Homo sapiens: one gene and its partners. The protein of the gene in region 3 purifies or fractionates together with the protein of the main gene of each other region. This does not show direct contact. Each region holds a gene or a part of one and is shown on either strand. Other genes may lie near its edges.

Region 1 (2,643 bases), on a different chromosome or scaffold from region 3:
TCTACTGAGGATTAATCCCTGGAACAACTCTCTGAATAAAATAAAATAAAAGCTGGCTGCATGGTCAATTACCTTGGTAAACCTCTCGTGGAGATAAACAATATGCAATAATTTCTAAAAAACCTTGCAGTAGAAAAACCTGTTTCAAATTTCTGATTTTATGAACTTCAAAACTAAAATTACATTGAATTTCTGGCCTTTGCCATGAATTCATTTCTGCATGGCCAGGATTCCTGACAGCCCCTTTAGTTTTAAAGGTAATCCACACCTAAAGGAGTCAGAGGTGGATTCAGATAACTAAAGCACCGCTCCTGAGACCTGAGCGGTGACATTGCCTTTGCTTCTATACCAAAAGTCACACAAAGTCTACTTTCCTGGTTTCACTGATTAAATAATTCATATGCTGTACTATATTAAATCAAATTCTACCAACCCTCAACCCCCAAATCCAGCAAGTAAACTGTCCCTTCATAAACTACTCAAGAAATAACGAATGCATCTGAAAGATAATTGCTTTTAATTTTCTAAATTTTCACTTATGCAACATAAAGGCAGATTTATGTGACCTGATAATGACATTTTTACAAAAAACAATCCCCCCCACCCCAACATCTTGGTCAGTAGTATATAAATATTTACAATGAAAAAATAGGCAAGGAAAAAGGAAATCTTCATTATCCATGTCGATTTCTTTCCAATGCTTATCAGGAACTTTGAAAATAAAATACTCCATTAACTTTCTCGTCACTCCTATTTACACGCTGCTTTAGCTGATGCATTCGCGGTATTTGGGTTGCACTGTATAAGAGTATTTTTGTTCTCTATCACTCCTACTTTTTTCTATACTATTTTAAAAATCTGAAATAGTAAATTAAATATAAAAATGTAAACTCTGAAAGGAGAGAAAATAAGAATAAATATGTGTAAAGGTAATGCATTAAGATACAAAGGATCTCACAGAGGTTAATATTTTACAACACTAAAAAAAAATAAAATGCTCTATATATTTTCTTAGTTGGGACATTTTGTTTCAATTTAATTTTTGGTTATGTTAACAAAAATTACCTCTAAAGAGGATGTTAAAAAAATAGCAATGACGTTACCATCTTAACTAATGAATATCCTATCACCCTAATTTTTTCTAAAAGAAATGGATTTTTTAAAGTGACAAATATAAATTATAACATAGAAAGCTTAAGAAGCCTCAGCAAATTATGGTATCTTTTAGCGATGAAGACTTTTAGAGACAAATGTGAACAGTGCAGCCAGCCTACTTGACTTAGGGATTTACAAATGCATTCGACTCCGACATGTGAAACACGACGTGGCTTCTCCCACACGCCGCTCCGCTGAAACATGGCGCACTCGTGGGCGGAAGGGCAGGACACCTGCAGCATGCAGTTCCTGCAGGACGTCAATGGGAATTTCGTGTCTAGCAGTGCAACGAACATCACCCGCAGCTCCCTGGGAGGACCGCGAGCTTCACGTGTGGGAGCTGCGCCGCCCCCTGGTACCCAGAGACACACGGAGCCTGGGCTCCCTGGCTTTGTAATGCTCGTTGAAGTCCAGCCTGAAGCTAAGAAACCGAAGACTCTCGTCAGAGCTGGTCGTCAGTAACACCAAAAACTGCTGCACGATACCCTAAAAAGAAGCAAAAGGAGTAAAATATTGTTTCAGAAAAGAACAACCCACAAACGTATTCCCCGGACCTTAATCTCCTTTGGGTTGGGTCTGTTTTTCCTTCCAGATCAACAGGCCCTTAGTAAATGCCCACCAGGGCAGGTGTCCAGGGAGCAAGAGCTGCTGGGACCCTGGAGTGCACACGGCCAGTGCACCTGCATTAGGAATGGGCGCCCTTTTACAAGGACAAATTAGTGAAGAATACATTTGATTTGAAAACAACTAACCAACAGGTTTTTTCACTTTGTTCTTAAGTTCCACAAGAATAAGCAAAACAGCAAAGTAACAGATGTTAGAACATTCTATTTTGAATACAAAACTCAGTGCCACATATTTCATCTTTCATATGACTCATGAAAGAGGATTTCATCCTAGAGCCCTTGCTGGAGAACAAATTGAGAGCATCAGTCGGGTCTTTGGGTCTAGCTGCTGGACGTGAGGCTGCAGCCGCCCTCTTCATGGGCACTGGCATCGCCATCATCCTGTTACTGAGGGCGTTTTTAAAGATGTGACAGAAGTTTCCCCTAACTCTGATAAGACGAAAGGACTGGCTGCTTCTATTTCAGGCTGAAAGACTTGCATACTGAGTACAGGCCCATCCCCGCCCAGTGCTGGAGCCTGCTGCATGCCACGGGGTGCTGATCTGTTCACAGAACTGCTGGCCTGGAAAGGCCTCATCTGCAGAGAAAACTCACTGAGGCACTGCGTCCTCACCAAGCCCCGCCCAAGTCTTCACCAGCTGTCACTGCCCCTTCCCAGCTTCTGGTCAGAAACACGAATGCTGAAGCTCACAGGCAGGCCTGGGCACAGGCTCTGCTGTGTTGATAAAGTAACTTCACCTCTGAGCAGGCAAACACTGTGTATGTGTGTGTGTGTGTGTGTGTGTGTGTGTCTGTGTGTGTGTGTGTGTGTATCACTGCCTTTTTAGGTGAGGGAAGAAGAACACGCCTAAGAAGTTATATT
Region 2 (3,500 bases), on a different chromosome or scaffold from region 3:
CTGTCACCCAGGCTGGAGTGCTGTGGCGCAATCCTCCCACCTCAGACTCCTGCGTAGCTGGGACCACAGGCATGCACCACGGCACCTGGCTAATCTTCCTGTTTTTTATAGAGATGGGGTCTTTGCCATGTTGCCCAGGCTGGTCTTGACTTCCTGGGCTCTAGTGATCCACCTGCCTTGGCCTCCACAGGGCTAGGACTGCAGCCGTGCACCGCCTCTGTGAATGTTCTGAACGACGGGGCATTTGTCAGCTTTGCGTCCACCCCAAGACTTGTTTTGAAATGGTGAGGTTGAAACTCACAGGTGTCCCTTAAATGTGATGTGCGGTAACTTGAGTTGTTGAGGTTTTGCTTGTGAATTTCTCATTCTTCTTTCCCTTTTTCGTTCCAGAGCGCCGCCCTGTGCTGGGCTGCCGGGAGCTCGTCTTCAGGAACCTCTCCAAGATCCTCCCTGCCCTGTGCCACGACATCACCGACTGGGTGGTGGGGACCCGAGTGAAGTCGGCACAGCTGCTCCCAGTGCTGCTGCTGCATGCCGAGGACCACGCCACGCAGCACCTGGAGGTCGTCCTCCGGACCCTGTTCCAGGCCTGCACCGACGAGGAGGCAGCCGTGGTCCAAAGTGTAAGTGGCCGTATTCCAGTCGTGGTCGCGGAGCTGTAACTCGAGCTTAAGATCCCGCCTCTGTGGTGTGCGGGGCCCGAGGCTGTACTGTAGCCAAGACAGCGTTCCCCTCACCCCCGGGCCGCAGGCCCTCCCCACACCCAGCCCCTGGGAACAACTGATCTCCTTTCTGTGCCCGTAGGTAACAGCGTGTTGAGGGTGAACCCTTCATGCTCATTTTCAAGCACACTCGGGGGTGCAGTGCCAGGTGCATGTTGTGTAGACGTGTTGTGTAGACGTGCCGTGCACCAGACAGACAGGGCCCGGGCTGCTGACACAGGACCGAGATGCCCAGCGTTCAGCATTGACATCTGGACTGTCCTGAGGGCCCTTCCAGGCCTCGCAGGGGCTGTGGGAGCACCCAGACGGGGGATGATGGCACAGCTTCGGGTGTCCTGCGAGTGGTGTCCCTGGTGCAGTCCTCTTTCTCACTCCCTGTCCACACTCGGCTGCTGGTTATCGCCTCGTCACCACTGGGTACGCACGAGGGAGTCCCATGCTCAGGCCTCTCCTCCTCACTAGGCCGGGCCACGCCCTGCGCTGACAGTCACCACCATGAGGACTTCACACCCACCTCACAAGGATGCTTCCTAGTGCTCAGGAGAACAACTAAAGCTTTGACTTGAGATTTCAGTTGAAAATATCCTCATCTTGAACCTTAAATTCCATTGCAAGGTAGCCTGGCCAGCAGCTTTTACTTCTAGTGGTCCAGGTCACTGTTACTAGCCCAGCGTAGTGGCGTGCACCTGTGGTTCCAGCTCCCGGGAGGCTGAGGTGGGAGGATCGCTTGAGCCCGGGAGTTTGAGGCCTCAGTGAGCTATGATTGCGCCACTACTCTCCAGCCTGGGCGACGGAATGAGACGCTGTCTCAGATAAAACAAAAAAATCTAAATCATTGTGACTGATTTAAAGTAAATGTTCCAGGTTCCATGTTATTTACATGTCATGTTTCTGCTTTTCAAAAACTACCGTGAATTTAAAATTGTCTGTAGTTCTCTGTGGAACCTACAGGAGAGCAAGAGACACGGGGGTGAGGCTGAGAGGACGAGAGACGTGTGTGGGATCCGCTGTGGAATCCCACGGTGCAGAGGGGCTGGTGTGTGTGTGATCCACTGTGGAATCCCACAGTGCAGAGGGGCTGGTGTGTGTGATCCGGTGTGAAATCCCACGGTGCAGAGGGGCTGGTGTATGTGTGATCCGCTGTGGAATCCCACGGTGCAGAGGGGCTGGTGTGTGTGTGATCCACTGTGGAATCCCATGGTGCAGAGGGGCTGGTGTGTGTGTGATCCGCTGTGGAATCCCACGGTGCAGAGGGGCTGGTGTGTGTGTGATCCGCTGTGGAATCCCATGGTGCAGAGGGGCTGGTGTGTGGTGTCCACTGTGGAATCCCATGGTGCAGAGGGGCTGGTGTGTGTGTGATCCGCTGTGGAATCCCACAGTGCAGAGGGGCTGGTGTGTGTGTGATCCGCTGTGGAATCCCACGGTGCAGAGGGGCTGGTGTGTGGTGTCCACTGTGGAATCCCACGGTGCAGAGGGGCTGGTGAGTGTGTGATCCACTGTGGGCTTCCACGGTACAGAGGGGCTGGTGTGTATTGATCAGCTTAGTGATGGGAAGGTTGGGTCACTGGTGTCCGATGAGGGGTGTGTGGTGAACCCCACAGCTGGGACACAGCATCCTTTGGGCCAGACTTCACTGCCTGGGAGGCGTGTCCGGCTCGCTGGCCTCAGGGACGTTCTGAGACCACACCCGGACCCTTGTACCTTTCCTGAGGGCTCTGAGCATGTGCCAAGGACTCACTCTGCCTAACACGGGGCTCTGTCTGGTGCACGGCTGTGTCTGGGAGGCCACGGCGCCGAGAGCAGGAGCCCGGCTGAGACCCTCGGGTTTGGCTCTGAGTTTTCTCATGTTTCTTTCTCGCAGTGTACCAGATCCGCAGAGCTCGTCGGGACGTTTGTCAGCCCTGAGGTGTTTCTGAAGCTGATCTTATCGACGCTGAAGAAGACGCCCTCTGCCTCCGGCCTCCTGGTGCTGGCCTCCGCCATGCGGGGTTGCCCCCGAGAAGCCCTCCAGCCGCACCTGGCAGCCATCGCCACAGAGCTGGCACAGGCCCACATCTGCCAGGCATCTGAAAACGTAAGAGCACTTGGGAGATGCGGGAGTGGAGAGGAGGAGCCTCCCCTGCCCGGCCGTCAGCCATCGTAATGACATGTCTGTGGGTTGCCCTGTGCCGCCAGGCTGGGCTGTCGGAAGCACCCAGCGACGTGTCTGTGGGTCCGCCCCGTGCCGCCAGGCCGGGCCATCGGAAACACCTGCAGTAACCGGAGTGCCCTCGCTGATAGCCCTTGTTCCGGGGCCTCGTCCTGGGCTGTGCAGAGCTCCAGCCCCAGCCCCAGCCCCAGCTGCAGGCGGCCGCTCACGTTTACATTCGTTGCTGCCCCTTTCTTGGCCACACACCACAGTTCACGTGTTTGATGACTCAGGAGGCGTCCATGGCCGGGACCCTCTGGCCCATGCTGCTGGGGGTAGATGTGGGGTCCACGTCATCCCACCCCTGAGGAGCGTGGTCGCACGTCCACCATCCCATCCAGTCCCCAGGGTACCTGCACAGATCGCACGTCCTCAGGGGGCACTGACAGCCTGTTCCCCATCAGCCCTGCCTGGCGTTCCGATCTGTGCTTCTCACAGCCCAGCTGAGGATTTGCCAGAGACATTTGTTTAATTTTAAATTGAGCAGCAAATCCTTGAGCTCAGAAGCTGGAACAGCCTGGGTAGTTGGGCTCAATTGTTTGGAATAATCCATAGTTGTATTCCATGGAAGAAGAGGTGATGGCTTTGCT
Region 3 (3,500 bases):
GTGAAACCCCATCTCTACTAAAAATACAAAAAATTAGCCAGGCATGGTGGCGGACGCCCATAGTCCCAGCTATTCGGGAGGCTGAGGCAGGAGAATGGTGTGAACGGGGGAGGCAGAGCTTACAGTGAGCCAAGATCATGCCACTGCACTCTAGCCTGGGCGACAGAATGAGACTCCGTCTCAAAAAAAAAAAAAAAAAAAGAGATGGGTCTCTCTGTTGCCCAGGCTAGAGTGCGGTGGCATGATCAGAGCTCACTGCAGCCTCGAGCAATCCTCAAGGGATCCTCCTGCTTTGGCCTCCCAAAGTACTGGCATTACAGGCATGAGCCACCGTGCTGGCCATGTCTCTGTTTTTCTGTTTTTTGTTTTTTTTTTTTTTTTGAGACAGAGTCTCACTGTCGCCCAGGCTGGAGTGCAGTGGCGCGATCTTGGCTCACTACAACCTCTGCCTCCCAGGTTCAAGCCATTCTCCTGCCTCAGCCTCCCGAGTAGCTGGGACTACAGGCGCCCGCCACCATGCCCAGCTAATTTTTGTATTTTTAGTAGAGATGCGGTTTTCACCATGTTGTCCAGGATGGTCTCAATCTCTTGACCTTGTGATCTGCCTGCCTCGGCCTCTCAAAAGTGCTGGGATTACAGCCGTGAGCCACCGTGCCCGGCCGGAAAGTCTGTTTTTAATTCTTGTGGGTGTACACCTAGGACTGGACTTGCTGGAGAGTATGGTAGTTCTGTGTTTAACTTTTTGAGGATCTGCCAGACTGTGTTTCACAGCAGCGGCATCATTTTACAGTCCCACCAGCAACGTACGATGTTCTGATTTCTCCACATCCTCACCCAGACTCGTCGTTTTTCCCTTTTAAAATTAAAGCCATTCTAGTGTCATACACAGGTTATTAAGTGAGTTACTTTTATTATATAATTAGGCAAAGACAAAGTCCGAGTGAACAGTTTAAAACAAAAGCCAGCAGTCCCTTATCTCTCTGTCTTCCTGACCCTTCCCCAGAGGGTGCGGCTTTCAGCTCAGCTTTTCCTCGCCTTCCCTCGCTGACCTCCGCACGCCCTCTTTCATCTTTCACCCCTCCCTTTGCTGTGAACTGTTGACTTCCTTTTTGGGTAGGTGAAGGTTTTACCTCAAATCTGCATGATCACGTCCAGTCTCTCAGTATGATGTGTTAGGACATCGGTTTGGTTGTTTAAAAGGAACCAAAATAACAAAAATCTTGCCTGAGACAAAATGGAAGTTTGTTTTTTTCTCGTTTTATACAGTCGAAGCAGCTCAGGCTGGGTGGTGGTGGTTGGCAGATATCAGGGGCCCTGTGCCTTTCCCATGTTCAAATGTGTTTTCCGTTTTGGTTTCTAAGACGGCGACTGCCGGTTTCCCCACCGCATCCACCCCCGGTCCGGCCAGCAGGAACCAGGGGAAGGAGAGGGCATGTTTTTCCCCTCAGAATTGGGGCTCAGAAGTTACTCCCAGCACCGAGCTCACTCAACACAGCTGTCCCCTGTCCTCCCCTGCGGACTTCTGTTTGAATATATTTTATTTTATTTTTTTCTAGTTAGTCTGTGCTTATCCATGAACATATTTTATTAATAATAATTAGGTAGTGTTTGAATGTTTACTGTGTATCATATGATCTTATAAGTACTTTATATGCATTTAATTTTTTTTTTTGAGACGGAGTGTCACTCTGTCGCCCAGGCTGGAGTGCACTGGCGTGATCTCGGCTCACTGCAAGCTCCGCCTCCCGGGTTCACGCCATTCTCCAGCCTCAGCCTCCCAAGTAGCTGGGACTACAGGTGCCCGCCACCGTGCCCTGCTAATTTTTTGTATTTTTAGTAGAGATGGGGTTTCACCGAGTTAGCCAGGATGGTCTTGATCTCCTGACCTCGTGATCCGCACGCCTCGGCCTGCCAAAGTACTGGGATTACAGGTGTGAGCCACCACGCCCGGCTACATTTAATTATTTAATCCTTAGAACAGGCTTCTAAAGTAGATATTGTTTGTTTTACAGATAAGGAAACTGAGGCACAGTTCAGTCAAAGCACATGTCCTGGTCACACAGCTAGGGAGGTGCAAGCCTGCCCGCCCAGAGCCCATCTTCACTCCGGGTACTTTGAATTTTGGGTCTGTGGCCCTCCAGGGAGTCCATGTGTGCGCACCTGGGTCACCTTTTCCATCTGTGCTTGAGGCTGGTGGAAGGTGGCTCAGATATGCTCAGAGGCTGAGTAGGTGGGGCTTAGTTAACACTGCCCTGGAGCTCATTGAGCATTTCCTGGGTTCGGCAGGCAGGAAGCACCAGCGTGTTCTGGATGAAAATAGTTCCTGCCTGCTGGCTCTCCACAGCTAACTCGCCTTTCCACACTAATTAGAGACCTTCTTAAGTATAATCTGTTAAGACTGACACCCTAAACATTTATTTAGCTTTTATTTCCTGGGCTGGTGGCCCATAGTTAGAGCTGCAGCCAGTCCCCAAGAAGCCGACGCCAGCAGACCCCTCTGTGCTGCAGCTTTGTGCCGTGGGACTGCTGGCCTCGCCGACCTCTTGCTTTATCGACACAGTGACCAGGAGTTAAACTTTGGGATGTGCCCGTGATGTTGGACCACAAGGACTTAGAGGCCGAAATCCACCCCTTGAAAAATGAAGAAAGAAAATCGCAGGAAAATCTGGGAAATCCATCAAAAAATGAGGATAACGTGAAAAGCGCGCCTCCACAGTCCCGGCTCTCCCGGTGCCGAGCGGCGGCGTTTTTTCTTTCATTGTTTCTCTGCCTTTTTGTGGTGTTCGTCGTCTCATTCGTCATCCCGTGTCCAGACCGGCCGGCGTCACAGCGAATGTGGAGGATAGACTACAGTGCCGCTGGTGAGCCTCGGCTTCCCCGCCCAGTGGGGTCCAAAGCAGCTCTTCCCAGGGGATGGGGCGGAGGGGGCAGAACTGTGTCTGCGAGTCTAGAAGTGGCCTTTAAACAGTGAATCAATCCCAAGAGGCTGCCAGTTCTATGTCCAAGGTTTTCCCGGAGTTTTAGGGAGCGATAGACCAGCCTTTTTATTTTTGAGATGGAGTTTCGCTCTTGTTGCCCAGGCTGGAGTGCACTGGCACAATCTCAGCTCACCGCTACTTCTGCCTCCGGAGTTCAAGCGATTCTCCCGCCTCAGCCTCCCAAATAGCTGGGATTACAGGCGTGCAGCACCACGCCCAGCTAATATTTGTATTTTTAGTAGAGACCGGGTTTCACCATGTTGGTCAGGGTGGTCTCGAACTCCTGAGCTCGTGATCCGCCCGCCTCAGCCTCCCAAAGTGCTGAGATTACAGGCGTGAGCCACAGCGCCTGGCCCTAATTTTGTATTTTTGGTAAAGATGGGGTTTTACCATGTTAGCCAGGCTGCTCTTGAACTCCTGATTTTAAGTCATCCTCCTCCCTCGGCCTCCCAACGTGCTGGGATTACAGGTGTAAGTCACCACACCTGGCCCAATTCAGTGATTTGTAGTCAGTTTGTAGAG
Region 4 (2,844 bases), on a different chromosome or scaffold from region 3:
GATCCTTCTGGTGACACTGGAGGAGCAGAGGGGAGATAACTCTCTAATCCTGCAGATGGAACTGCTTCTGTCCACACTGAGTTAGGGGGCATGGAAACAGTGGGTTCAGGCCTATGACTCATTCTAACAGTATAAATAGCAGGATTCAGAAGGTGATTAATCGTCTCCAGTGAGCCCACCCTACCAGCTTCCCTGCCAGGCTGGTGGCAGCGATTTTACCTGAGGCCTTTATTGTTCCCAGGGTCCTGCAGGCTGCCCTGGGGTCGGCCCTGAGCAGTATATTCATTGCTCACCTTTCTCCTGTCTTTGCAGAGTTTGCCTTCTGCCAGGTGGATGCCTCCATCGCTCTGGCCCTGGCCCTGGCCGTCCTGTGTGATCTGCTCCAGCAGTGGGACCAGTTGGCCCCTGGACTGCCCATCCTGCTGGGATGGCTGTTGGGAGAGAGTGATGACCTCGTGGCCTGTGTGGAGAGCATGCATCAGGTGATCCCGGGGTGTCAGGGGAGTAGGAGGCAGGGTTGGAGTGTCCTAAACCCGCTAGATGCAGCACCTACAGCCTCAGCTGGGCTTTTGCATGCTTAGACACAGAGCAGGAACCACTAGGAAAGTCACCCACTGGGTGCTGCCGAGGACACGGGGACACTCTTAGGCTGACTTCTGGGGTGCTGATGGTCAGCCTCCAGCTTAGCCAGGGGAGAGAACTCGGAAAGAAGCCCCTGGCCGGGCACAGCGGCTCATGCTTGTAATCCCAGCACTTTGGGAGGCCAAGGCAGGCGGATCATGAGGTCAGGAGATCGAGACCATCCTGGCTAACACGGTGAAACCCCGTCTCTACTAAAAATACAAAAAATTAGCCGGGCATGGTGGTGGGTGCCTGTAGTCCCAGCTACTCGGGAGGCTGAGGCAGGAGAATGGCGTGAACCTGGGAGGCGGAGGTTGCAGTGAGCCGAGATTGCACCACTGCACTCCAGCCTGGGCAACAGAGCAAGACTCCATCTCAAAAAAAAAAGAAAAGAAAAGAAAAGAAAAAAAGAAGCCCCTGGATGCGGAGAGTTTTATTATGGAGACTGCTTGTTAGTCAGTATTGGAGTTAGCCTGGGGCTTCCCAAAGTTAGGTCTGAGGGTGAAGCATTTTCAGAGAATTAGGATCTTTGCTGGGAACTTCCTGCTTGAAGAAAACTATTATTAGCCCCCTCCAGGGTGGGTGCAGTCACAGATAGGGAAACTGAGGACAAAGACAAGCAGCAAAAGCATCCTGAGAACTGAAATTGATCGCCACCAGCATCTGACTCAGCTGGCCTTCTTGGCATCCCCAGCAGGCCAAGGGTTCAAAACGCATTGTCCCTCTTTATGAGAAATTTGGAGACATGGTAAGTGTCTGACAAAAGGACCTTGAGAATCACAGTGTTATAGAAACAGGACACAGCCTAGTGTCCTGTGTTTGGAGATTCCTTCCTCTCTGGCCTGCTGCAGAGATGACCTTTCCTCCCTCCTCTCCAATTTCCAGCTGCACCTTAAACTCTAGAGCCCACTCCCTTGTTGAAGTCCCCTTTTCAGCATCCATCCCCCAAAGTATCTTGACTTTGAACCACAAACACATCTTTATCCAAGGTCATGTTAAGTCTGGGGAAAAAATTCCTCTCTGGTGGAGAAATACAGTGAGTGAAAATAGAAGGTGACCTTCAAGGCTGCAAGTGGTGTGTGTACATGGATGTTGACAGGCAAGAGTGCACCCTCTGTCAGGTGGGGGAAGGGAAACCCCTCTTGCATCTGGCAGGGTACTGCTTGGTCTGGACTGGGGCTTGTCACCATTCCCTGTAAGACTGACTTTCGGCTTTTTCATCTGATTTAGGTGGAAGAAGACTACCTGTTTGAAAAAGCAGAAGTCAACTTTTGGGCCGAGACCCTGATCTTTGTGAAATACCTCTGCAAGCACCTCTTCTGTCTCCTCTCAAAGTCCGGCTGGCGTCCCCCAAGCCCTGAGATGCTCTGTCACCTTCAAAGGATGGTGTCAGAGCAGTGCCACCTCCTGTCTCAGTTCTTCAGAGAGCTTCCACCAGCTGCTGAGTTTGTGAAGACAGTGGAGTTCACAAGACTACGCATTCAAGAGGAAAGGACTTTGGCTTGCTTGAGGCTGCTGGCCTTTTTGGAAGGAAAGGAAGGGGAAGACACCCTAGTTCTCAGTGTTTGGGACTCTTATGCAGAATCGAGGCAGTTAACTCTTCCAAGAACAGAAGCGGCATGTTGAAGAAAATCTGGGGGATTGGGATGGGGGTATGTGTGGATTTTTCCTCCACTAAATCTGCAGGAAACATGTTGAACATAAATTCAAAAATTTTATCCCATTCATGCCTCCCCTACTTCTGTGAGTCCAGTCGTCTGTCACTCCTTACAGAGAAACTTTTCTTCAGTTCACTCATTCAGGGCAGCCTATTTTATTGCTGCTACTGTAGGAAGTGAGGCGACTCCGTTGCAGATTTACTCTGTCCCCAGGTGCAGGCCACCTGCAGGCCTGAATGAGCCTTTTTCATCCCCCAGGGCCTCTAATGCCCTGCCATAGCCGCCCTGCATTCTCTGTGAAATGACTACAGAGAGTTGGATTTTAGCACATACACATGATCCCTCCCCTCTCCCCTTTTCTGGCTTTATGTAGGGGCTGGATTAGTTGGCAAACAGCCCATTTGGTCAGATTTGTGAATTTTGTTCCATTTTAGCAAAGCAGAAATATGTTCCAAATGTTGGATCCTGGGAGAATTCAGGATCAACTTTGCACAAATAATTTATTTTTATTGTCTGCATGTGTTAAGTCCTGCAGTGACCTACACATTCCATCCTAATTATTCAA

The links.
Region 1: the proteins of FAM234A (region 3) and TUBGCP3 purify together in Homo sapiens (affinity purification with mass spectrometry; one large-scale study listed by BioGRID and IntAct). This does not show direct contact.
Region 2: the proteins of FAM234A (region 3) and DNAAF5 purify together in Homo sapiens (affinity purification with mass spectrometry; one large-scale study listed by BioGRID and IntAct). This does not show direct contact.
Region 4: the proteins of FAM234A (region 3) and THADA purify together in Homo sapiens (affinity purification with mass spectrometry; one large-scale study listed by BioGRID and IntAct). This does not show direct contact.

The regions. Positions count from the first base shown.
Region 1 is NC_000013.11:112,484,511-112,487,153, forward strand, and holds the end of TUBGCP3 (gamma-tubulin complex component 3), read right to left. Parts: intron 1,642-2,643; coding exon 1,483-1,641; 3' UTR 501-1,482; downstream 1-500. UniProt on the Homo sapiens protein: Component of the gamma-tubulin ring complex (gTuRC) which mediates microtubule nucleation.
Region 2 is NC_000007.14:754,199-757,698, forward strand, and holds part of DNAAF5 (dynein axonemal assembly factor 5), read left to right. Parts: intron 1-390; coding exon 391-623; intron 624-2,583; coding exon 2,584-2,796; intron 2,797-3,500. UniProt on the Homo sapiens protein: Cytoplasmic protein involved in the delivery of the dynein machinery to the motile cilium.
Region 3 is NC_000016.10:251,821-255,320, forward strand, and holds part of FAM234A (protein FAM234A), read left to right. Parts: intron 1-2,012; exon of another isoform or gene 2,013-2,109; intron 2,110-2,508; exon of another isoform or gene 2,509-2,560; 5' UTR 2,561-2,593; coding exon 2,594-2,861; intron 2,862-3,500.
Region 4 is NC_000002.12:43,230,351-43,233,194, reverse strand, and holds the end of THADA (tRNA (32-2'-O)-methyltransferase regulator THADA), read left to right. Parts: intron 1-312; coding exon 313-482; intron 483-1,851; coding exon 1,852-2,247; 3' UTR 2,248-2,344; downstream 2,345-2,844. UniProt on the Homo sapiens protein: Together with methyltransferase FTSJ1, methylates the 2'-O-ribose of nucleotides at position 32 of the anticodon loop of substrate tRNAs.